Homo sapiens: one gene and its partner. The protein of the gene in region 1 interacts with the protein of each later gene in a biochemical or structural test. Each region holds a gene or a part of one and is shown in the gene's direction. Other genes may lie near its edges.

Region 1 (12,525 bases):
TATAGATTACTTATAATACCTAATACAATTTAAACAGTTGTTTTTCTTCCTTTTCCTTTTTTATTTATTTATTTTTTCAAGAGGGAGTCTTGCTCTGTCCCGCAGGCTGGAGTGCAGTGGCATAATCTCAGCTCACTGCCACCTCCGCCTCCCAGGTTCAAGCGATTCTCTGGGCTCAGCCTCCCAAGTAGCTGGGATTACAGGCACCCACCACCACACCTGGCTAATTTTTGTATTTTTAGTAGAGATGGGGTTTCACCATGTTGGCCAGGCTGGTCTCGAACTCCTGACCTCAGGTGATCTGCCCGCCTTGGCCTCCCAAAGTGCTGGGATTATAGGCGTGAGCCACCTCGCCTGGCCAGTGTATTGACTTTTTTAAATTTCAAAATGTATTTATTTTCTTTTATTTTTTATTTTTTAGAGACAAGGTCTTGCTGTGTTGCTCAGACTGGACTCAAACCCCTGGGCTCAAGCAATCCTCCTGACTCAACCTCCTGAATAGCTGGGATTACAGATGCATGCCACTGCACTTGATTTACTGTATTGTTTTATATTTTTTATTTATTTATTTATTTTGAGACAGAGTCTCACTCTGTCGCCCAGGCTGGAGTGCAGTAGTGTGATCTCAGCCCACTGCAACCTCTGCCTTCTGAGTTCAAGCGATTCTCTTGCCTTAGCCTCCCAAGTGGCTGGGACTACAGGCATGCACCACGACGCCCAGCCAATTTTTGTATTTTTAGTAGAGATGGGGCTTCGCCATGTTGGCCACTCTGGTGTCGAACTCCTGACCTCAAGCAATCTACCCACCTCGGCCTCCCAGAGTTCTGGGATTACAGGCGTGAGCCAGCACACTCGGCCTGTACTGTTTTTTAATCTGTATTATTTTTATTATTTATTATTATTTTTATTGTTTTTTTTTCCAAATATTTTCTGTAGTTGGTTGGGTTCGTAGATACGGACTCTCTAAATGAGGAACCCACATATATGGAAGGCTAGCTGTAATCCCTCCTGATTGGATATTCATTTAGCAATTTGTCCTTTTATTTTTATAAAGTAGCCTCTATTCAAATGTCACCAATCTGGCTGGGTGCAGTGGCTCATGCCTGTAATTCCAGCACTTCGGGAGGCCAAGGCAATAGGATTGCTTGAGCTTAGTAGTTTGAAACCAACCTGGGAAATACAGCCAGACCCTCTCTCTATAGAAAATAGAAAAATAAAACAAAATTACCCAGACGTGGTGGCACACACCTGTAGTCCTAGCTACTCAGGAGGCTGAGGGAGGAGGATCGCTTCAGCCCAGAAGTTTGAGGTTACAGTGAGCCAAGATAATGCCATTGCACTCCAACCTAAGTGAGACAGAATGAAACCGTGCCTCAGAAAACTAAGAACAAAAAACAAATGTCACCAATCTGTGAGCCCTTTGATGATCACCCAAGCCCCCTTACTTTCTCCACTTTAAAAAAATCTTATCATCACTAAAATAGTATATATTTATTAGCTTGTGCTTATTCTTTTGTCTTCCCTTTCTACTAGTGAGCTGTATGAGAGCCGATACTTTGTCTTTTTTTGTTGTTCACTGTCATATATCCAGCATCTGGAAGAGTGCCTGGCACATAGAGATGTGGAATAAATGTTGAATGCATGTATAATCCTCCTCCCTACAGGTGTGCTGCCTCCCCCCATTAGATTGCTTTTCTTCCATTCTATATCTAAATTAATGCATCATCATTCATTACAATGCCAAAGAGTCATTCTCCAATTCATCACTCTCTCGCAATCACACAACATCAAATAGATAATTTTTAAAAATCACACTGGTGGCAAAGGATCAAACAAGAACAATGCTTGAAGGTCATTGGAATGCCACAGTGGAAATTCGTATGAGAGAAAGGGCCTAAACAAGAGCAGCATTGACCGTGGTAATACTAAGATGCTATTTGCCATGTTCACTTTGACATTTGCATGGATGGTACAAAAGCAACAGTGGGTAAAACGCTGGTCCCTCAGCATGAATCATGGTAGTGACACCAAACCATACTTGGAGTCTTTGCCTTCATTACATAGATTTCACTGGGGAAAGCCAGTGTCATTTAAGAATGCCCTTCATAAAGGAGTAAAAATTATTAACTGTGATAAATCTGGACCTTTAAATATGTCTTTTGTCTGTGCGATGAAGTAAGAAGAACACATAACGCACTCAGTTGCATACAGAGGGTTTTCTCGAGGAAATAATACCAGCTCAACTAGCCACTTTTTTCACAGAACACCAGAAGGACTAACAGACAAACTATGGTTGTTCAGACTTAGATACGGCAGATCTTTTCTTGAAAATGAACAAAGTGAGTCAATCTCTTCAATGAAAACAACTAATGGTATTTGTTGGCAATAATAAAATTTGAGCTTTCAAGTGAAAATTATAATTTTGGAAAACTTGTTTCTGTCATCATGAGTTTGACAACTTCCCAATTGCCTGATAAATTGATGGTGATATTTTTGTAAATTTTTTTGATATTATATAATAATACATGTCAACATTAGGAAAAGCCGTATAACTCAGTGAACCAGTATTTTCTAAATGACCAATGCATGATGTTACAAAAGCATGACTGGGTAAAAAAGTCCATTCAAGGACAAGATTGGCTGGACGCAGTGGCTCACGCCTGTAATCCTAGCACATTGGGAGGCCGAGGCAGGTGGATCACCTGAGGCCAGGAATTCGAGACCAGCCTGGCCAAAATGGCAAAACTCCGTCTCTACTAAAAATACAAAAATTAGCTGAGTGTGGTGGTGGGTGCCTGTAATCGCAGCTACTCAGGAGGCTGAGGCAGGAGAATTGCTTGAACCCAGGAGGCAGAGGTTGCAATGAGCTGAGATCGCACCATTGCACTCCAGCCTGGGGGAAGGGCGAGACTCTGTCTCAAAAAAAAAAAAAGGACAAGATTGACTACCATTTTAATGTAACAGTGTAAAAAAGTTAACTGATAAAGTTTTAGATTCCAAATTGTTAGCCTTTAAGAAATTACAGTCATCTGAGAAGGTTATTAAAATGCTTCTCTGCACTACGTATGGTGGCTCATGCCTGTAATCGCAGCACTTTGGGGGGCCGAGGTGGGAGGATCCCTGAGCCCAGGAGTTTGAGATCAGTCTGGGCAACATAGCAAGATCCCATGTCTACAAAAAAATTTTTTTTAATTAGCTGGGCATAACGATGCACACCTGTGGTCCTAGCTACTTGGGAGGCTGAGGCAGGAGGATTGCCTGAGCCCAAGAGTTGGAGTAAGCTGGGGTTGTGCCACTGCACTCCAACTGGGCAACGGAGTGACACCCTGTGTCTAAGAAAATAAAAATTAAAAAATAAATAAAATGCTCTTCCTTTCCCAACTACATATTTGTGTGGTGCTGGTTTTTCTTCATATATTCCAACCAAAAGAACATATTGTAACGGGTTGGAGAAACAGATATGATAATCCAGCTCGATCCTGCTAAGCCAAATGTTAAAAAAAAAAGTACAAAAAATGTAAACCAATGCCACTCTTCTCACCAGATTTTTTTGTTTTGGAAAATATAGTTATTATTTTTAAAATGTATTTAAATATAAAAGTTTTATATTGAAATGAATAAAATATTTTAAACATCTTAGGTTTAATTTCTAATATAGTAAACATCAATATGTATTATGCATATAAACAAGAACTTTGGGGGTTCTCAATAATTTTTTTTTTTGTGAGACAGAGTCTTACTCTGTTGCCCAGGCTGGAGTACAGTGGCACCATCTTGGCTCACTGCAACCTCCGCCACCCAGGTTCAAGCGATTCTCCTGCCTCAGCCTCCTAAGTAGCTGGGATTACAGGTGCCCACCACTACGCCCGGCTAAGTTTTGTATTTTTTAGTAGAGATGCGGTTTCTCCATGTTGGCCAGGCTGGTCTCGAACTCCTAACCTCAAGTGATCTGCCCGCCTCGGCCTCCCAAAGTGCTGGGATTACAGGTATGAGCCACCGTGCCTGGCCTCAATAATTTTTAAGAGTAAAGGCGTCCTGACACCAAAACAGTTTGAGAATCACTGGTGGAAATTATTCTTGAATTAAAATGACATTTGTTTAAGAATTCAGTAATTTTGACTTTTCCCTCTCTGAAACTAACCCTAATTAATCTGATTTTGTGAGGTTTTATTGCATTTTTTAAAAATCCAGGGACCACGGTCTAGCCAAATGATTATCAGATCTAAGTATTCATTTTAGTCTATTTTAACACTCAGGATAATAAATTTCAGATAAATAATACTCTAATTTTTTTTTTTCTGAAAAGTTACTGTCAAGGATTGTTTAAGTAATGCAAATGATCCTTTTAAACTACAGTTATACTCCACTGTTCTGACCAGAAACCCAAATACTATTGACTCAGTTTAACATTGTGTGTGCAGAATGCCCTCATAGAAGCTGATGAAACACAATTTGGATTTTTACAACAGTGATTTTCAAAGGGGTAAGCATGAGAGGTGGGAGTGGGGTTCATGTGCCCCCCCTGAGGGAAGCATCAGAATGTGAGGTGGTTGTAACTACAGAAGTTTCTTCTGTTCGCACCAGAGATGTTAATATTTGCTGCCCTTCTATTCACTGTCTTCTCTTACAGACTTCCTGCTGTTGTAAGCAACCACTACAGATTTCTCAGAAGTACTGTGGCAAATAAAAATGATTGAGAATCATTATACATTTTCTATTCTACTAGAGAGACAGTTTAAAATAAAATAGGTAAGTATAATCTGAAGAAAATAACAGGAAATAAATAGGACCAATCAAAGCTTTTAAGGATTTGTGCTTATACTGAGGTTCTATCAGGTTCTCACGCTCTGTTAATTTGAAAGCAAAACCATTACATTTAATTGAATGTTTAATAAAATGAATTATCAGTGGCTTGTTTTATTCGGAATTCCATTATTTCTTTTTCCGAATAATATAGTTTTCCAGATTTAAGTGGTAAAAATCAAAGACTTTGTTGTAAATTTTTTTTTTTTTGGAGACAGAGTCTCACTCTTCTTGCCTAGGCTGGAGTACAGTGGCACGATCTCGGCTTACTACAACTTCCACCTCCTGGGTTCAAGCAATTCTCCTGCCTCAGCCTCCTGGATAGCTGGGATTACAGGCGCCTGCCACCACGCCTGGGCTAATTGTTGTACATTTTTAATAGAGACAGGATTTCACCATGTTGGCCAGGCTGGTCTCAAACTCCTGACCTCAGGTGATCTGCCCGCCTTGGCCTCAAAAAGTGCTGGGATTACAGGCGTGAGCCACTGCACCTGGACATAAATCATTATAATAATTGTATGGAATTATTATGAATCACAGCGTCCTGTGTCTACACCCCTTTGTAATGTGACATTGTCACTCTTCTCATAAAAAATTGGAATTTTCCCACTTCTTGAATCTGGGATGGTCTTATGACTTGCTTTGACCAACAGAATATGATGGAGTGATCTTGTACATTTTGGAGTCTAGGCTTTAGGTCTTTGCTTCCACTCTCATCTTCTTAGAATGCTAAGACCACCATGCAGTGGAAAAGCTCCATCTACCAGAAGATGAGAAGCCATGTGGAGAACTAAGACTTCCCAGCCAATAGCCAGCACCAACTGCCAGACACGTAAGTGAGGCCATCTTGAACCCTCCAACCCTAGATGTATTCACGGTTCTCCAGAGAAACAGAACCAATAAGATGTGTGTGTGTGTGTGTGTGTGTGTTTATAAAGATATTTATTTTAAGGACTTGACTCACTTGATTATAGAGCTTCCAAGTCCAAAATCTGCAGGGTGGGTTGGCAGGCTGGAGGCCAGGGAAAAGGTGATGCTACAGTTCAAGTCTGAGAGCCATCTACTGGCAAAATTCCTTCTTGCTCATGGAAGGTCAGTCTTTTGTTCTATTCAGGCCTTCAGTTGATTGGATAAGGCCTACTCACATTATGGAGGGCAATCTGCGTTATTCAAAGTCCCCTGATTTGTTACTCAGAGGTGAGAAAAATCATGGTGTACTAAAGTCACCACAAAAACTTCTGTAGATCATATGGAGAAGCAGGAGAGATGAAGCTGGAGAGCAAAGCAGCAAATCAGCAATTAAAAAAGATGTTTGGAGTTGTTGAGTTTGGAGATGAAAAGTGACAAGATGAATTCTGGATTTTAGACAAAGCAATCCAACGTGTGGATGGAGAGGGATTTGAGAGGAGAAATCAGCTGTTGTCAGTAAGAGTATTTAAATTAGGATACTGGTAACGGGGATGGAGAGACACACGATTATACATGGGAAGTGAGAGCAGAAAGAATTAGGATTATTTCTTGATTTTTTTTTTTTTTTTTTTTTTTTGCTCAGGCAACTGAATAGATGAAGTCATTAATGGAAACCAGGAACACTGAAGAAACAGTGAACAATTAAAGTACTTTGAGTTATCAAAGTGAGATGTCCTGCAGGTAGCTAGACGATACTGGCTGGTAATTCAGGAGAGCTGCTGCGTCCTGTGTAAAAGGAAAAGCAATTCATGGATGGTGGCTAAAGCCAGCTGGCAGGATTTAGGGGATGGGTTAGACCTGCACTTGTTTTGATGGAGAAGAGGCGGGTATAAAGTGGCAGAGTGAGATTACTGTAAAATATCTGCATTCAAAGGGCTAAAAAAAGAGAAATGCTGGAAAGGCTACTTGCTATAAACGCAGCAGGGTAGGTTAAAACAAATTACGAAGCACGGGCGGTGAGGCGCGGTGCTTAAGATTAAGCCCGGCGTGTTTTCGAGTGCACTGATACACAAAAGGGAAAGGGACCCTCCTCACCGGAAGCACAACCTCTGCCCTCTGGGGCATTACACATTCCTCCGCGCCGGAAGAAAGCGTCACGTCGCGTCGCGCCTCGCCCCGCCTCGTTGCGCCTCGCCCCGCCTCGCCCCGTCGGCTTCCCTCAATCCGTACCTCTAGTAAAGAAGAGCTTGTGCCCCTCCCCGACCCCTTACCAAGGGCGAGCTGCGTGGAGTCGTTGGACTGGGCAGAACTTTGGCGGGCAAGGAGACAAACAGCCACACTGTGCTGCCGGGGAAGAGAAGAAGAAGGAAAGGCCAGACACACAGGCGTCGTGCAGCTGCGGAAGGATTCCGTTTCCTGCAGGGGGCGGAGGGATTTGACAGCACGGTAACTTCCGGAAAAGTCCTGAACCTCAGTGGAAAAGCCTTGCAAGAAACAATAACAAACGGGAGGAGGAAGCGATTCTGGGGTTTCTGTGTTGAACGGTTCTTGTCCGCGAAGATGCGCTTCGGCCTCTGTCAGGGGACTTGAACGGGCTTAGTGGGCTTCAGCCAGCTTTTCTCCACCGGTTCCCCACGGGGACCCCCCCCCCCCCCCGGCCGTTGCAATGGCGGGCGTGGGGCCGGGGGGCTACGCGGCGGAGTTCGTGCCACCGCCAGAGTGCCCCGTCTTTGAGCCGAGTTGGGAGGAGTTCACAGATCCGCTCAGCTTTATCGGCCGCATCCGGCCTTTGGCGGAGAAAACCGGCATCTGCAAAATTCGGCCGCCCAAGGTACCTCAGTCTGTGAAGAGAGAGGGGGAGAAGGAAGAATGGGGGAGTCCGTACACTGGGTTTAGCTTTACTTTTCTGATCCTTGTCTCGTTTCATATGTACTCTCTTTTGAGACAACTGGAGCCTGTTTCTGGATGTTTTTGCCTCGGTTTCTTTTGTGGTCTTATGTAGACACGTCTGAAAGCGAGAAAGTGGTGTCTCTTGGGCCTCTTCCGCCTAGAACTTGGGAACTGATACTTTTCTCTCAGCCGTGGGCCTAAAGCCTTTCGTTAGCCGATATGGTGTTTAAAGTACAGTATTATGACGTGACGTATTCTTCCCTCACGTATCCTCATTATGGTTTGATAGTCGGCTATCTCTTTATTCAAGACCTGGTTGGATCAAATATTTGCAGGCCTCATCTCAGGGCTAGGGTTTCTGAAAAGGTTATCTGAGCTCTAGTCTCACCGGATGGTATTACTAGACAAGAACTCCAGACTAATTATTGCCGCAGTGAAAAAGTCTTAGCGGGGAAAGAGAAGGAGCAGCAATAATTCTAAAATTTAGAGGTTTAGGAAAAATTGGTTTATAGTGGAGGTGGAAGGAAATGTTGAAATCTCTTGACGTAGGGAACTCAAGATCAACGATTTTAGAATCACAGTTATTGCAGATAACTAGGTTTGCCTATAAGGTTAATTATAATCTCACCTTTGAGGTAAGGAAAACAGATACTATCCCTTGTGTGGAGGGGATTAATGCCCCAAGAGGTTGAGTGATTACTCAAGGTCAAAGGTGTTTTTCTTTACTCATTAGACCAGTGCTTTTTAAATGATGTTGCTGGACCACTTGCACCAGGGTCAACTGGATGCTTGTTTAAATGCAGATCTCTAGTCTTGTTGTGGAAGTTCTGGAATCTGCTTTTCTAGCAACTAGTCTCAGATGATTCTCATGTAAGTTGAGGTTTTCGAACCATTGCTTTAGTCGTTGCTTGTTAAAGGCATTTTGCTTTATGTTTTGTCTAGTATTAGTAATGATAAAATATTAAGCACTGTTAACCAGTGTTGCTTTTTAAAAAGCATCTGCCGTCACCACTGACTACCACAGAGATAGGCACCGCAGCGTATTAAAAACTTAAATGACAGCGAGGAGGAACTAATTTAACACCTATAGATTGTTTGCTTTAATCTTTGAAGCCCTGACAGGTAAATAAAGTCCGCCTTTTACAGATGAGGCTAATCTGGATAAGTTAAAACACCAAATGTGTGATCTTGGGCAAGTGGCAAAGTGTATTTTGAACCTAGATCAGTTTTTCTGATTCTGAAACAGACGTAATGCTCTCACTATGTTGAATGACTTTGTTTAAGGTTATAGACTACTCATTTCAAGCAGAGGATTAACAAATAATTGCTATGATGATACGCATTGCCATCCTCCAAAAACTTCCATTTAACCCTTTTTTCTATCATAATTACCTAATATTAACAAATCTTAAGCATTGAAGGTTTTCCTAAGTCATATTTTTATCTACTCTTGAATTTATTAATTAGAAATTCTATTCACGGTTACTTTGATTAAAAAAAGTTTTTTTACTTAAAAAAATGCTGAAATAATGCTTTCTCTTTATGTCACATTATTGAAAATAAATCTTGTTTACAATCAGAATTTAATTTTAGTTTTGGCAGATTTCTTCAGTTTCCAAGGTAAGACTTTTTTTTTTTTTTGACTACTCAACGTTTTAAAATAGGTTTACTGTTATTCTGTTATTTAGGCCAAATCAAACTATGTTATTTAGACCCCACTTGAAATATGCTATCTAATTTTAGTTATATCACAGTCTGGAAATTGTCCTTGTTCTGCGTGTTTTTTGAATATTTGGGTTCCCAGAAGCTGGGCTTTGAACAAAACATTTGTGTAACATAAAGTGCTCTGTCACATTACACATAACATAAAAAAAATCGTTTAAATAAATAAGTTCTTAAAAGTTTCTTTTTAATCTTAAATTTTACCCTTTTTAGTTTAAACACAAGTTTTTTTTTTTTGATCTTGGTAAACCTGAATGTTTACTAGATACTGTTTTGTGGTACATGACCTCATTGAATTCCACTTGAGTAACTTGGGAAAGCATAATTGTGGGAGGTAAACGGTGGGACTGGTTTGAAGAGGATTGCTTCTCTGAGCAATACAGGTTGAGCATCCATCCCTACTTTAAAAATTCCAAATCCGAAATCATCCAAAATCTGAATTATTCTTTTTCTTTTTCTTTTATAGAGATAGGGTCTCGCTCTGTTGCCTGGGCTGGTCTTAAGCTCCTGGGCTCAAGCGATCCTCCTGCCTCAGTCTCCCAATGTGCTGGGATTACAGGTATGAGCTACTGCACCCAGCTTGAACAGATTATTTTTTTCATTGTATTAATGGTATGGTATATTTTTTCTGTTAACTACTTAAGTGGAAATAAGTGTAAGGAAATGATTGTTTATTGGTAGCATGTAAATTCACAGTCAGGAATGATGGTGATGCCAGACAACCACAAATTGTCCACACTGGTGGCTGAGCTACTGACACCTTTCTTTTCTGACGGTCCAGTATACACAAGCGTTATGCACCAGATTATTAAAAATATTGCATAAAATTACCTTAGCCTATGTATAACTTTATATGAAACAAAAGAATTTTGTATTTAGGCTTGGTTCTTTCTCCAAGATATCTCATTATGTATATGCAGATATTCCAAAATATGGAAAAATCTGAAATCCAAAACACTTCTGGTTCCAAGCATTTCAGATGAGGGATACTCAACCTGTATTAAAATTATTTTATCGAAAAGAATTGCTCATTCTGTCTCTATAATAAAGAAGACTTGTAAGTTAGTCTATTAGCACCATGATTTGTGGCAAAACCCCCCTTTAAGGGAATAATTAATGCATTCCTTGTTTACATACCACTGTGTTTTTTTAAAAAAATCTTTCTATTTAGGACTGGCAGCCTCCATTTGCCTGTGAAGTAAAAAGCTTTCGTTTCACTCCAAGAGTCCAGCGCCTGAATGAACTTGAGGTAAGTGTTTTGTCACTATTTCTGCTTCCTGATTCATTCTTTATATTAGGGCTGTAGGTAGAGAACTTTGAGAAGCTCATGTACCACAGCCTAGAGTTTGTGTTAATTGGTATTGAATGGAATAGTTACTTGATGTTTGGAGGAAGAGTATGATTTTTTAAAAACTGTGCAAAGTTGTTATGGTTTTTCCATTTAACTGAGAAATGTTCAATGCTTAGCTTCAGAGACTTAGAATTCTTAAATTCTACTTTCTCTAGTGTTTCTTACTCTACTAAAATTTTTGTTAATCTTGGAAGATTTCTTTCTCCCTCGGTTCTTGGAAAATGGATTTTTAAATCCTATTTTAAAACCCTAGTTTTCAGAGTTTGTTTTGTTTTGGTTTGGTTTTGGTTTTGGTTTTAATGGAACTTTGCCAGGAGTGTTAATCTGATTTATTAAGATTTTAAGTATTACTTTTTAATTACTTTAAGTATTATTTTTTAATTACTTTAAGTATTACTAATTTATCTTAAATTTTCTAAATGGAAGTGTACGTTTTGCTGTTTTTTCTGTTTATGGGTTTTCAGAAGGTTCTTCATTGTGATATGAAAACTTTTAGAGTACAGAAGGAAAATTATTGATAGCAAAGGTTTATTATGTCATTCTGAAGTTTTTTTTCTTTTCTCCCCAAAACATTTCTGAGAGTTTAATACATACTTTTTTTTTTTTTTTTTTTCCAGAGAGTCTTGCTCTGTCACCCAGGCTGGAGTGCAGTGGTGCGATCTCGGCTCACTGCAACCTCTACCTCCCGGGTTCAAGCGATTCTCCTGCCTTAGCCTCCCTAGTGGCTGGGATTACAGCGACCATGCCCAGCTAATTTTTGTATTTTTAGTAGAGACGGAGTTTTGCCGTGTTGGCCAGGCTGGTCTGGAACTCCTGACCTCAGGTGATCTGCCCGCCTTGGCCTCCCAAAGTGCTGGGATTACAGGCGTGAGCTACCGCGCCTGGCCGCAATGCATATTTTTTCTTTTTAGTCTCTTGTAATTAGATACTTGACAAAGCATATTAGTATCAGTGAGGTATAGAGTTGATGCACCTAAAGTGTGCATGTTACATATGGATGAAATGACAGAACGTTAGAGACTGAAGAGAATCCGATCTACTGAATTTTCTGATCAGCATAGAGTTAAACCAACTTACAAAAATTGTTTTGGTTGCTAATATGACAACTTTTTACATAAATCAGAGTAACTTTTTTGCCTGAATAAATATAGTTTATTAGAAGTCTTTTGCCTCTTTATTATTGGCTAGTTTTACTATTGGCTAGTTTTACAGGGTTGAAATAAGCAATAATGAAAAAAAGTCTTTGAATTTCTTTAGAGAAATGAGTACCTCTATTACAGCTGTCCCAAACCTTTTTGGCACCAAGGACTGGTTTCATGGAAGACAGTTTATCCATGGATGGATGGGGGTATGGAGGATGGTTTTGGGATGAAACTGTTCCACCTCAGATCATCAAGCATTACTTAGATTCTCAAAAGGTGCTCACAACCTAAATCCCTCACACGCAGTTCACAATAGGGTTTGTGGTAATGCTTGCCCGGTTGGTTGCCCACTGCCGCTGCTCACCTCCTGCTGTGTGGCTGGGTTCCTAACAGGCCGCTGATGGGTACTGGTCCACATCCTGGGGTTTGGGGACCCCTGCTCTGTTATTCTTATTCATTTCAATCATAACTTAGTTCTTCTGTATTTTAATAATCTTAGGCAATGACCAGAGTGAGATTGGATTTCTTGGATCAACTAGCAAAATTTTGGGAACTTCAAGGATCTACTCTGAAGATCCCTGTGGTAGAGAGAAAAATCCTGGATCTGTATGCTTTGAGCAAGGTGAGGCTCATACTGGTTTAGAAATTAGAGCACAGGCTTGTGAATTTAGGAATATCAAATAGATTTGGTAGGAAACATTGCTTCCA
Region 2 (12,664 bases), on another chromosome or scaffold:
CGAGTATTGGAGCATTGGAAAATACTTTTTTTTCTGGCTGTGATTAGAATTAGTAGTTTGAGTTTTAATTAATGGAAAACCATGTTTTCATGATTGATACATAAGTTTTTTTGTGAAAATCTGCAGTCTGGGTCGCTTGAGTGGGTTTTACCAATAATCTTATGTCTCCCTTACTTGTTCTTGTACATAATCATTGTTTTGAAGGTAAAATCTTGAGCTCACTGGTTCTCTGACTGGGAGCAAAGTGTAAATACTGTGTAGTAATGGAAGGTATTTTGCTCTGACTTGTACCTGTAAGAATGATTACACAGACATGATAAAAGCGCTTTTACCATTTGAGTTGCGTTTTTCTTTCTAAATCGTGTAATACTTTTACTTACATGATTGGTGAAATAAAACTGCTTTTAATTAAATTATAACAGCAGCATATTTCGAAATCTGGATGCGTTGTGGCTGGAGAACTTTCATTCTGAGTATTAACTGTTAAAGCTTTAAATTTTATTATCCATGCATATTGCTGATGGATCTGTGAGTATATTTTCAGAAAACAGGAGACTTGCAATATTTTCAAATCTGTACTAATACACACTTGTAGGCATTAGATTTTAAGCAGTTAGGTTTGTTAAAAAGTTATCTGTTGTCCTATACCAACAGATTTCTATCAATGTTTTTTTTAAGTGGGTAAGATCAAAATTGGTTTGGTTGACAGGCCATTCTTGCCAGATGTAATTCATTAAATAACCTTTGGCACCCTTGATGGGTAAGGCATTAGGAAAAAATTGTTTCGTTTGAAAGTTATTATACATCTCATTCTTCTGTTCATTTTTAGAAATAAGACCCAGGACTTGGCTTTAAAGCATTATTTTGCATTTTGCTTCCTCCTAATACTAAATTTCATGTTATCTCAACTAGGGGCAGTATTTTCTCATGGATTGACTAAAAGTTGTTATTTTTGGCATCTGGCTTTGTGATTATTTCCAAGTTACTCTACTTCCCCTGGGCCAGTTTCCTAACTATGTAGTAAAATGGGAATTATAATAACTTGCCACATCTGCACAGGATTGCTGTGCCTTAAGATTCGCAGAGAGCATCCTTGGATGAAAACTGTGGGGAAGGTCTAGGAATTGTTACTGAAATAAGCTAATGTGAAGTAGGTCATATTTTATAGGAAGTCAAATAGGAGGTTTTTAAGTTCTTGGCAAGACACAGTAGCGATAGTGGGATTTTTTAAAATCCCAAATATGTATTATAATATGGGTAATAAAACAGATACCTTTATTCCTGCCCCCCATAAACTTATAGGGAAAGGGACAAATAAAACAAATTACAGGGTGATGTGTCGTGTGTGAGTGTGTGTGTGTGTGTGTGTGTGTGGTGTAAGAGATTGAAGTTCTGTCAAACTCAAATGTAATAACATTATAAAATTATGGGATGCCTTTCCTCTTTTGTTTTCTGCATGTAGCAATATTCTATTTATTTATTTTATTTTATTTTTTGAGACAGGGTCTCACTCTGTGGCCAGGCTGGAGTTCAGTGGCACAATCTTAGCTCACTGCAACCTCCACCTCCTGGGTTCAAGCGATCCTCGTGCCTTAGCCTCCTGAGTAGCTGGGATTACCAGCGTACACCATCATACCTGGCTAATTTTGTATTTTTAGTAGACATGGGGTTTCGCCATGTTGGCCAGGCTGATCTCAAACTCCTGACCTCAAGGGATCTGCCCACCTTGGCCTCCCAAAGTACTGGGATTACAGGGGTGAGCCACCATGCCTGGCCTGCATGTAGTAATATTTAACAAATGGTAGTACAACATGCTTTCACTGGACTCTAAGCCAAGTCTGTTAATAGCAGTGATTAATTTTAAATATGCCTTATATTTTTTAGTGCTTTGTTATTTGCTCTTAAGAATAAATTCTAATAACCATGACTATAATTTCAGATTTGACTCTTGGCCTTAGAAAAGTGTTTTGCATTTGAGGAGCACTCTGTAGATACGTATTGACTGAATGAAACCTGTTGCTTCTCTGTTCTTGGTAGATGATACCATATTCCGTTTGGTTCCCAAAGCCACGATTCCTAATTCCTCTCTCACCAGCCTTTACATTTAATTACTGAGAACTGATCATTTTTCCTTCTAAAAAATCTCTTGAATTTGTTTCCCTTATCCTCACTGCCGAAGTTCATGCTGTCATTTCTCACCTGGTTTACTATGACGTACTGACAGCCTCTTTCTGCTTCTAGAGTCACCACCTTTATCCAGCTTCTACATGTAGCAGAGCAGTCTTTCTAAAGAGCAAATCTGATCACTGCTTAATCTAAAAACCTTTCAATGGCTCCCCCTAGCAGCGTTCATTAAGAGAGGCAACAGAGTGGAGGGTTATGAGCTCACATTTAGTGTTTAATCTGAACTGGGTTCCAATTCTGTCTCTGGCACTTAAAACCCCTGCCAGTTAAAACCCCTGTAACATTGACAAGTTAATCTCTTTATCAATTGCAAGATAATTATTCCTAACTCAGAAAGTTGTTGTGAAGATTAAATGAGATAATGTATGAAAGCATTTAGCAGAATTCCTGGCATGTAGCAAGTGCTCAAAAGATGTTAGCTACTGTGGCGCATAGGATCCTCCATAACTATTTCATCTGTCTCTTCTCCAGCTGAGTTGTTTGCCATTTTCTCTCCATAATCAGTGCTTCAGTCATATTAAAGTATTTTGACATCTCTGCATGAGCCCAGCAGTTTAATGCGTTCTTGTGTATGAAAAGTAATGATCCTTAGTAGGTTATTTCTCAAGACTAAGGGAATATTCTAACCAGATCTACCAGACTACAGTTGGTGCCTGGCTGTATAAATACTGTATATTTAATACAGTATTAAATGCTGTATATAATTCTCTTGGAAGCATGATACTAAGTTGTAATTATCACACCCAAATATTGTCACTTGGTGGCAGGTATCATTTATATTCTTATACTTAGAAGATTGTCTATCACATGATAGAGACTCAGCAAAAAGAATTTTTGAACATAGGACTCAGTGCTTTGAAATCTTGGTGCAACATGGTTCATGTGGCACAATTTTAAAATTGTGTGTGTGCTTGTGTGTATACAGTATATGTGTGTCTAATTCATATATATGTATAATTTATATATAGGTATTTGACTTTGGTTCTGTAAGGAGTAATTGCTGAAGTACCCAGAGGAATTGATATTTTCAGCCACAAGCAATCTCATAGCCCCTGAGAACATTATAGTAAGGCTCTTAGGCAAAAGTTTTTTTTTTTGATTATTAGAAAATACTACATTATATTTGTATAAAACTGACAAGTTTAAATTTCACTTTTGTTTTTTATATGATTGGCTGTCAGTGTTTATCAAAAGATTCCATTATTTTTAACTGTTTTCAGTACTAGATGGCTAGGGATGTATGTTAGATTAAACCGTAGAACACTGTAGACTGCTTTTTGGGGAATCCATGCCATAGAACCAAATAATAAGTTGATAATTTACATGGAGACTCAGGTCTCATGGACATATTACTGACAGATAATTTCTTTAAGCTTCAGGTTCTACCTCTATAAAATAGGGGATGATAATTATATTTTATCTGTCAGGCACATTGTGACTGTCAAATAAGGTAAATTTTGTGAAATAAGGTCAAATGAAACAGTGTATGTGTAAGTGACTTGTAAACAGTAAAGCGTTCTATACAAATATTTTAATTACTATAAGAATCAGTTTCCTCTGGTAACCTTTCATCTTGAGCAGGGCTCAAGATGGACTTTTTATACTGCAAGCTGTGGTTTTGTGGGTCATGTTTTAGGAAGGCAGCAATGTATTTGGTGCAGAGGACCGCAACCCTTGAAATATGTGCTTTGGCATTTTAAGCAGACATATTTGTTAAATTACTGCTTGACCACGAATGTTGTCATTGAGTCACCCCCAGCTTTTTGGGGTCTATTTCTTACTGCTCTCTTCTCTGCTTGGGCAGCTGTAACAATGTAGGAATGTTGAATGTCTAGCTGCTACTATCTCTCAGACTCTTATCCTGCCCACAGTTCTGTATGCCTCTTAGGCCTGGCACAACATCATGGTGTTGCTTATGCCTCATTAGACCTGCTGCTTAAGGGAATTAAATGATACCCTAATGGTCTAAAAAGGGTAATGTATTTCCGAACATGTCATATTTACTGTAGGAGGTTGGGGAAGGCGTCACAGGCACTGTAAGTGGTAGTAATTACCTATCCGTATAGATATTTGTGTAATTTTGTTGTGTTGAGACAATGCATAATGGTAAGTTTGAGAGCTTTTCAGTCATATTGGTGAAGTTTACGGCAATCTTGGGAATATTTATACTATTTTAAGTTTACAAAAAATAAAATATAGAAAACACATTTTTTTAATGCATTCTGAGTTGCAAAAGCCTTGCAATGAAAACTGCATCTATTTGATGTGAAGCAGAATACACTAGAGAATCAAGTTGACCCTGGAGGTTTTTTTTTTTTTTTTTTTTTTTTGTATTCAGTAGTCTTAGCCTAAGAGCTAATGATTATCTGTGCATTGTTAATGAGATGATAATCAGAGTTGTAAGTGATAAGAGTAGTTTCTCATAAAAAGTTTACATAACAGGAGAAAAAATATTTAATGTTGGGCGCAGTAGTAGCTCAGGCCTGTAATCCCAGCACTTTGGGAGGCTGAGGTAGGAGGATGGCCTGAGCCCAGGAGTTTGAGGCTGCAACGAATGGTGATCATGCCACTGTACTCCAGCCTGGGTGACAGAGAAAGACCCTGTCTCAAAAAAAAAGTTTTTCACTCTATAAAACTTTTTTATAAGTATGATATTGTGTTATAGAAGTACAGTATTGCTTTATGAAATATAAATGTAATATTGTAGTTTTTTTAAAATAATGTGAACAGTCTATTATGGACATAGCTTAATTTCCTCCAGTACAAACTAGCTTTAGACTGGTTTGCATAAATAGAACAAAGGTATATGTTCCCTTTTGGAAAACTGCAGATCTGCAAAGATTGTGCCTGATTTTGCCAGCATGTTTTTTCACATCTTTTTTTTTTTTTAATTTGATAACATTTTTCATGCAAAAAATTACCTAGATCTGTACAAAGCTCCTAATCCATACACCATTTGGAGTAAGCAGAAACACTGGGGTCCTAAGACATGTAGGAGGGGTGTTAAGGAAAATGTTAATAGTATAACCATGCTTTAGTGGCTCTCCTTTTAGTATTGTTTTAATAACAATATATTTATTAAATAAGCAGTTGAACACTTATTAGGTATAAGACACTCTTTGTGCTGGTCCTATAAAGATGGCTAAGAAATGGTTTGGTGAAGCTCATGACTTGGTAGAGTGTACACAGGTAATTATTGTGTAAGGGAGATTATGGTAAGTGCTGTAACCGATATTTAGTGTTGGTGGGAACACAGATGTAAATGATTATCTTCATTTGGAGTTCATAGAAAAGGTGAGAGTTGATAGGGAGTGATGGGAAATTAAGCTGGAAAAGTAATTGGGAGCCTCTTGGAAGACCTTGAGTGCTAACCTGATTATTTGGTTTTTTGGCTGGTTGGTGTTTTTTAGAGACAGTCTCATTGCTCTGTTGCTCAGCCTGGAATACAGTGGCAAAGTCGTACTTCACTGCAGCCTCAACCTCCTGGGCTCAAGGGATCCTCCTGCCTCACCCTCCCCAGTTGCTAGGACTATAGGTGTGTGCCACCAAACCCAGGTGTGCGCCAGCAACCCCAGCTAATTTAAAACATTTTTTTTGTACAGACAGCCTTGCTATGTTTTCCAGGCTGGTCCAGAGCTCCCGGGCTCAAGTGATCCTTCTGCCTTGGTCTCCCAATGTGGTGTGATTATGGATGGCCTAAGGTGATTATTTGAATATTAATCAGGGATACAGAGGACAAGGGTAAGGTATTGAGGTTTTTGTTTGTTTGTTTGTTTTGACGGAGTTTTGCTCTGTTGCCCAGGCTGGAGTGCAATGGTGCGATCTTGGCTCACCGCAACATATGCCTCCCGGGTTCAAATGATTCTCCTGCTTCAGCCTCCCGAGTAGTTGGGGTTACAGGCATGCGCCACCACTTTCAGCTAATTTTGTATTTTCAGTAGAGACGGGGTTTCTCCATGTTGGTGAGACTGGTCTCGAACTCCTGACCTCAGGTGATCCACCCGCCTCAGACTCCCAAAGTGCTAGGATTACAGGCATGAGCCACCGTTCCTGGCGGCATTGAGGGTTTTAAGATGAGGTAGGGCTGGATGTAAACAGTGTAAAATAGATTGGAATTGGTGGACACCATAAGAGAAATATAATCAAAATCTGATTTTGGTGGTGGGCCTAGGAATGAATAGGCCAAGAAGCTCTTTTTGAGGCAGGGTGATGTAGGGAACTTGGGAATAATTGTACTGTAAGTCACTAAAATAAGTTTGTGGCTATGAGCATTTCACTTAAGCTAGGTCTTTTCCTTTGTCTAAAAAATGGAAGAAAATAATACCTCATGGTATTGATGTGAGGATTAATAAGAGATAGAAAATGCCTACTGGGCCGGCTGGGCGCGGTGGCTCACGCTTGTAATCCCAGCACTTTGGGAGGCCGAGGCGGGCGGATCACGAGGTCAGGAAATCGAGACCATCCTGGCTAACACGGTGAAACCCTGTCTCTACTAAAAATACAAAAAATTAGCTGGGCGTGTTGGCAGGCGCCTGTAGTCACAGCTACTTGGGAGGCTGAGGCAGGAGAATGGCATGAACCCGGGAGGCGGAGCGTGCAGTGAGCCGAGATCACGCCACTGCACTCCAGCCTGGGCGACAGAGTGAGACTCTGTCTCCAAAAAAAAAAAAAGAAAATGCCTAGCTTGGTTCTGGTAATAGTAGGTGCTCAATAAATAGGTTCTCCTTACCCCTTTTCTGAAGTGTGGAATTTAAAGGGTAAGATGGGAGTGGGGTACACCCCCTTCAGAAGGGAGGGTAGGAAAAAACCTGAAATTAAAACCTGGTGATAAAATAATCAGAAAAGGGAAAGTTCTGAGTAAGGTGAACAGATACAAGAGAACCTTTTTAACAAAGTGTTGTGCTTATTGTAGGTCTTTAATAAATGCTGGATGCTTATTTTTGCATACTTCTGTTACACTTAACATTGTTCTGCAATTATATAAATTTATCTGTAATTGATTGTTTAATCTGTCAGTGAGCTTCATAAGAAAAGGAGCAATTATTTTACTTACCTTGCACAATTGTGGAGCACCTACCATCTGCCAGAATGTTATTTGCTGGATGAATATGGCTTGAGCAGATTTGGTAATATATAACACTTGCCACTAGGTGGCTCTTGGTCTTGATAAAGCTGACATTCAGCATAGATAGGTTTTTCTACCTAGAAACCCACGTAGAAACTGACCCCCGGATTATATTCACTTTTTTGCCTTTTCTGTACCTATATTTTTTGAAGTGGAATATGAAACACATATCATATAGAAAACTCATTTAGACTGTTGAAAATTAGAAAAGTGTAATGCCTTTAGAATATGTCCTGTAGAAAGAAGCAGAATGGAAGCTCAATGAAATTCACAAGTGAACAAAGCACATTTCCCCATCTCTCAATGTGCTTAAAGTGAGGCATGATGGTTTGATTTTAGGCATTGTTTTTTGTTGTTATGACTGCGTAAATTGCTTTAAAGGAAGATATTGTGAGGATTTGTTTCTCAGAGGATTTGATGAACGATGATGAAGCGTGGTGTGTACTGATGCTAGGCTATGATTCTGTGTGCTCTTATTTGTATTGTACTCTTCCTATTGAGAAGTAACATACCATCTAATGGTAACTTACATAACATAGAAAGGTAACTACATCCTGTGTGACACGTGTGATATATATTATTAAATCCATTAGATTCAGGAAATTTTAGAGCCAGAGAAGACCTTACTAATCATATATTCTAAAAGTACCCATTCATTTACACAGACAGGTTAGATAATGGCTGAGACACATTCAGTGACTGAGCTAGTTCCTGGTTTGTTTTAGGGGGAGGGGAAGGCCTGTGTTAGTCTTTTGTTTTTGAAACAGGGTTTGCTGTCACGTAGGCTAGAATGCAGTGGTGCTGTCATGGCTCACTGCAGCCTCAATCTCCCGAGCTCGTAATCATCCCACTTGAGCTTCCTGAGTAGTTGGGACTAGGTGCACGCCACCATGCCTAGCTGGGTTTTGTAGAGACGGAGTTTTCCATGTTGCCCAGGCTGATCTTAAACTTCTGGGCTTAAGGGATCTGCCGGCCTCAGCCTTCCAAAGTGCTGGGATTACAAGTGTGAACCCCTGTACCCAACGTTATGTTTTTTTTTTTCCCATACCTTTCTATTTATCTCACTCAGCTGCCTTTTAATGTTACATGCATTTTTAAAAAATAGCCCTTTTTCTCATATGTGCAGACTTAGAGCAAGACTGTAAATCCCTCAGCACCCAAGCCTTGATGGGTAGAGTGCGGCGGCCAGTGTTGCTTCATTAAATGGTCAGCTCGGAGCCTGCCTGCTCTTTCCTCGTTTGCTGTGTTCCTGTTTTTGGTGCTGCTTATGATCTTTGTCTTGTATTTCTAACTGACCAGGTGGCCTCTTCAGGAACATAGTTGTCCTCCTCACTGCACACCTCCTTATCCACTCTGCTTCAGTTGCTCCTACTCGAGAACTGGCTGGACGCAGTTACCTCTGGCTTACTCCAGTCTCTGCCTCTTTTCTCTCTAGCTTCTTGGTTATGCCACCTGCAATAAATTGCAGCTGGCTGTTTCCACAGCCTCTGGAAGGGAAGATGGAAGGACAGAGGAGAGTGAAAAGAAAGAAGGCTGTCATACAGAGAAGAGAGGCTACAACTTGAAATTTTATACTGAAAGATGATCTGGTTTATGAACATGATGATGATGTGTGTAGTGAATTTTTTCTAGTGTATATGCCAAGGCAATATTATTCTCTTGACTATGGGATTCATTAAGTCTGTTGTATCTGTCATCCATGCTTATCCACATGTCAAGGAAGTGAATTAATTTCAGCATTCCCAAGATAGAAGTGATAGTATATGGTAATTTACTTACAGCTTATAATAATGAGTGTCATTATTTGATTAAATGGATATTACTAATTAATGGGAGTTGCCATGTCACTATTGTAATGTTAAAAAAAAAAAGACCTTTCAGAGGTTATTTCATAATTATTGGTAAGTAAGCCATTCTTTGTCCTGGCCTTCCTCCCATGTATTCAATGTGATATGTACACTTTGCACACAGGATTTACTGACATGTCATTTACTTAAACAGCAGTTTCTTAGGTACCCTAAGTCCTGGAAATTGTCAGTTGCTTAAATAATTAAATACAAATAAATCAGCTGTCCACCTAAGCTACCATATACATTTTTGTTTAAATTCTAATGTAATTTAAAAGGCATTTATTTAATTTTTAGCTTGTTTTCATAGTTATTTCAGGGAAATGACCATCTTGATATGGAAATTTTTCTTAGAAATTAATTGATTTCACATCTGTATAAAATAATCATCTTGATTATTTTTCTTGTTGGAAAAGTAATGTTTGTTATAAGAAATTCAGAAGTTATTTATTTACTTCTTGAGACAGGGTCTCGCTTTGCTACCCAGACTGGAGTGCAGTGGTGCCATCATATCCCACTGAAGCCTGAAACTCCTGGACTCAATCCTTCCATGTCAGCCTCCCAGGTAGCTAGGGCTACAGACACTCGCCACCAGTCTTGGCTAATTTTTGTATTTTTTGTAGAGACGGAGTCTCTCACTGTGATGCCCAGGCTGGTTTCAAACTGCTGGTCTCTGGTGATCCTCCCACTTTGGCCTCCCAAAGCACTGGGATTACCAGCATGAGCCACCATGCCTGGCCTCAAAAGTTACTTAAGTATATTGTGTAAAGTGAGCCACTATAGTCTTATACCAGGAAATAATCACTGTTAACAATTGGGAGTACCTTTGACCCTTGAACAACACAGATTTGAACTGAGTGGGTCCACTTATATGTGGATTTTTTTCCTCCAAACTTGGATGGAAAATACAGTATTCATGGGATGCAAGAATAGTGTATATGGAGAGCTGACTGCCGGTCTTGAGTATGTGTGGATTTTGATGTATGGGAGGATCCTGCAAGCAATCCCCTGCGGATACCAAGGAACAACGATATATTTCTTAATTTAAAGAAATGGAAACGCTGACATTCGATTCTATTTTAAAAATTTCAGTAGTTTTGCAAACATAATATTAAAGGTGCCAGGGAGCTAACACTTTGTTGAATATCTACTCAGTCCTCAACTACAATGTGAGGGAAGTGGTATCTCTATCTATTAGATTACTTTAAATGAATTTCCAGGAAATAAACTTATTTTTAAAGTTACACTTGATTAGACTAGTCTTTGGGCTCAAAGTTTCTCTGAAGTAGCGTAATGTATCTTTAGGTAAAAATTTTGTATTTCATTTTTAAAAAGTTTTTTAAATTAAAAAAAATTTTTTTTTTGAGATGGACGTCTCACTCTGTTACCCAGGCAGACTTGGAAATTTTGGGCTCAAGCATTCTTCCTGCCTCATCCTCCTGAGTACCTGAGATTACAGGCATGCATCATTGTGCCTGGCTTAATTTTATTTATTTCTTGGGATAGGATCTTACTGTGTCACCCAGGCTGGAATACAGTGGCAAAATCACAGCTCACTGTAGCCTCGACCTCCCAGGCTCAAGTGATCCTCCTGCCTCAGCCTGCCAAGTAGCTGGGACTACAGGCTTGCACTACCATGCCTGCCTAATTTTTATTTTTATTGTAGAGACAGGGTCTCCAACACCTGGGCTCAAGCGATCCTTCTGCCTTGGCCTCCCAAAGTGCTGGAATTATAGTTGTGAGCCACTGTACATGGCTCGGACATAATTTTTAAAATAATTTTGTCAGGGCATCCCTGGGATGTTGTTCTATCAGTTAATCCAACTTTTCTGCCTTTTCTTTTTTTTTTTTTGATGGAGTCTCGCTCCGTCGCCCAGGCTGGAGCGCAGTGATGCTATCCTGGCTCACTGCAACCTCTGCCTCCCAGGTTCAAGCAGTTCTTCTGCCTCAGCCTCCCGAGTAGCTGGGATTATAGGCGCCCACCACAATGCCCAGCTAATTTTTGTATTTTTAGTAGAGGTGGAGTTTCACCACGTTGGCCAGGTTGGTTTCGAACTCCTGACCTCAAGTTGATCTGCCTGCCTTGGCCTTCCAAGGTGCTGGGATTACAGGAATGAGTCACCATGCCTGGCCCAACTTTTCTGCTTTGTATTTTCTTTTTTTTTTTCTAATATTCCTTTTTTGCCTACAGACCAATTTTTAGGTTTTTAAATTCTGTATACATCCTGTGTGGCCTTGGGCAAGTTACTTAATTGCATTGCAACTTAAGTTTTCCCTTTTGTACAAAGGAGAGCATACATGAGAATTCTTCTGAGGATCAAACGTGTGTATGCAAAGGGGCTGCAAGACTAGGCCTGGTCTATAAGGATTGCTTAACGTCCGTTTCCTTTCTTAACTCAAGCTACTGCCATGCCTTTTATTCATCTCTTGACTTGGTCTTGTTTTTATTTTCCCTTATGCTTACATATTAAAACCTGATTTTCACCCCAGGCCATCAGTAAATAACCTCCTTTTACCAGACCCCCAAACCTCATTTCAGTCATCAGCCTATTTCATTTTTCTGCATCTTGTGTTTTGTTTTGTTATGTTATGTCTTTATTCTTGACTAACAAGCTACTATCTCCACTTCTTGATTATTCCATCTTCTCTTTGCTACTTCTCTTCCAATCTTAAGTATTGTGATTTGCAGTTTTTGTCTTCCTCTTGCTGTATTCTTTGACTTTATGTCTGTGTCATTAGTGTGGATGTTTAGATTCGCATTTTAAAAATTCCTACTGGTTGTTCTGCAGGCTCATTAAACTTGCCTTTTCCAAAACAACTTGTTCTTTTTACCACCTGTATCTGTGATACCATCCTATAAAATAGACTTGATATCTGTTATAGTGCTGTTGTCCATCTGGCTGCCACAGGTAAACGTTAACTTCAGTAACTTCCTTATTTCCTCCCACTATCAGTTTTTCTTATTTTCTTATTATTATTATTATTGTTTTCGAGATGAAGTTTTGCTCTGTCACCCAGGCTGGAGTGCAGTGGCGTGATCTCGGCTCACTGGAACCTCCGCCTCCTGGGTTCAAGTGATTCTCCTGCCTCAGCCTCCTGAGTAGCTGGGACTACAGGCGTGTACCACCACGCCCGGCTGATTTTTTGTATTTTAGTAGAGACAGGGTTTCACCATGTTGGCCAGGATGGTCTCGATCTCCTGACCTCGTGATCCACCCGCCTTGGCCTCCCAAAGTGCTGGGATTACAGGCATGAGCCACCGTGCCCGGCCTGCATCCATTATTTCTTATCAGATATTCTGCGTTCTCTTCTTTTTGCTCGCTGCCATTGCCTTACTCTCCAGGCTGCTTCATCTCATAGACTATTGTCACAGCCATGTCAACTTCCCCAGCCCACATATGCTTACTTCTTTTTTTTTTTTTTTTTTTTGAGCCGGAGTCTGGCTCTGTCTCCCATGCTGGAGTGCAGTGCTACGATCTCGGCTCACTGCAGCCTCCACCTCCTGGGT

What was found.
Region 2: the proteins of KDM5A (region 1) and RBPJ form a complex in vitro, tested with the Homo sapiens proteins (one study listed by BioGRID).

Annotation. Positions count from the first base shown.
Region 1 is NC_000012.12:383,945-396,469, reverse strand, and holds the start of KDM5A (lysine-specific demethylase 5A), read left to right. Parts: upstream 1-7,149; 5' UTR 7,150-7,378; coding exon 7,379-7,543; intron 7,544-10,495; coding exon 10,496-10,573; intron 10,574-12,316; coding exon 12,317-12,439; intron 12,440-12,525. UniProt on the Homo sapiens protein: Histone demethylase that specifically demethylates 'Lys-4' of histone H3, thereby playing a central role in histone code. Does not demethylate histone H3 'Lys-9', H3 'Lys-27', H3 'Lys-36', H3 'Lys-79' or H4 'Lys-20'.
Region 2 is NC_000004.12:26,323,053-26,335,716, forward strand, and holds part of RBPJ (recombining binding protein suppressor of hairless), read left to right. Parts: intron 1-12,664. UniProt on the Homo sapiens protein: Transcriptional regulator that plays a central role in Notch signaling, a signaling pathway involved in cell-cell communication that regulates a broad spectrum of cell-fate determinations.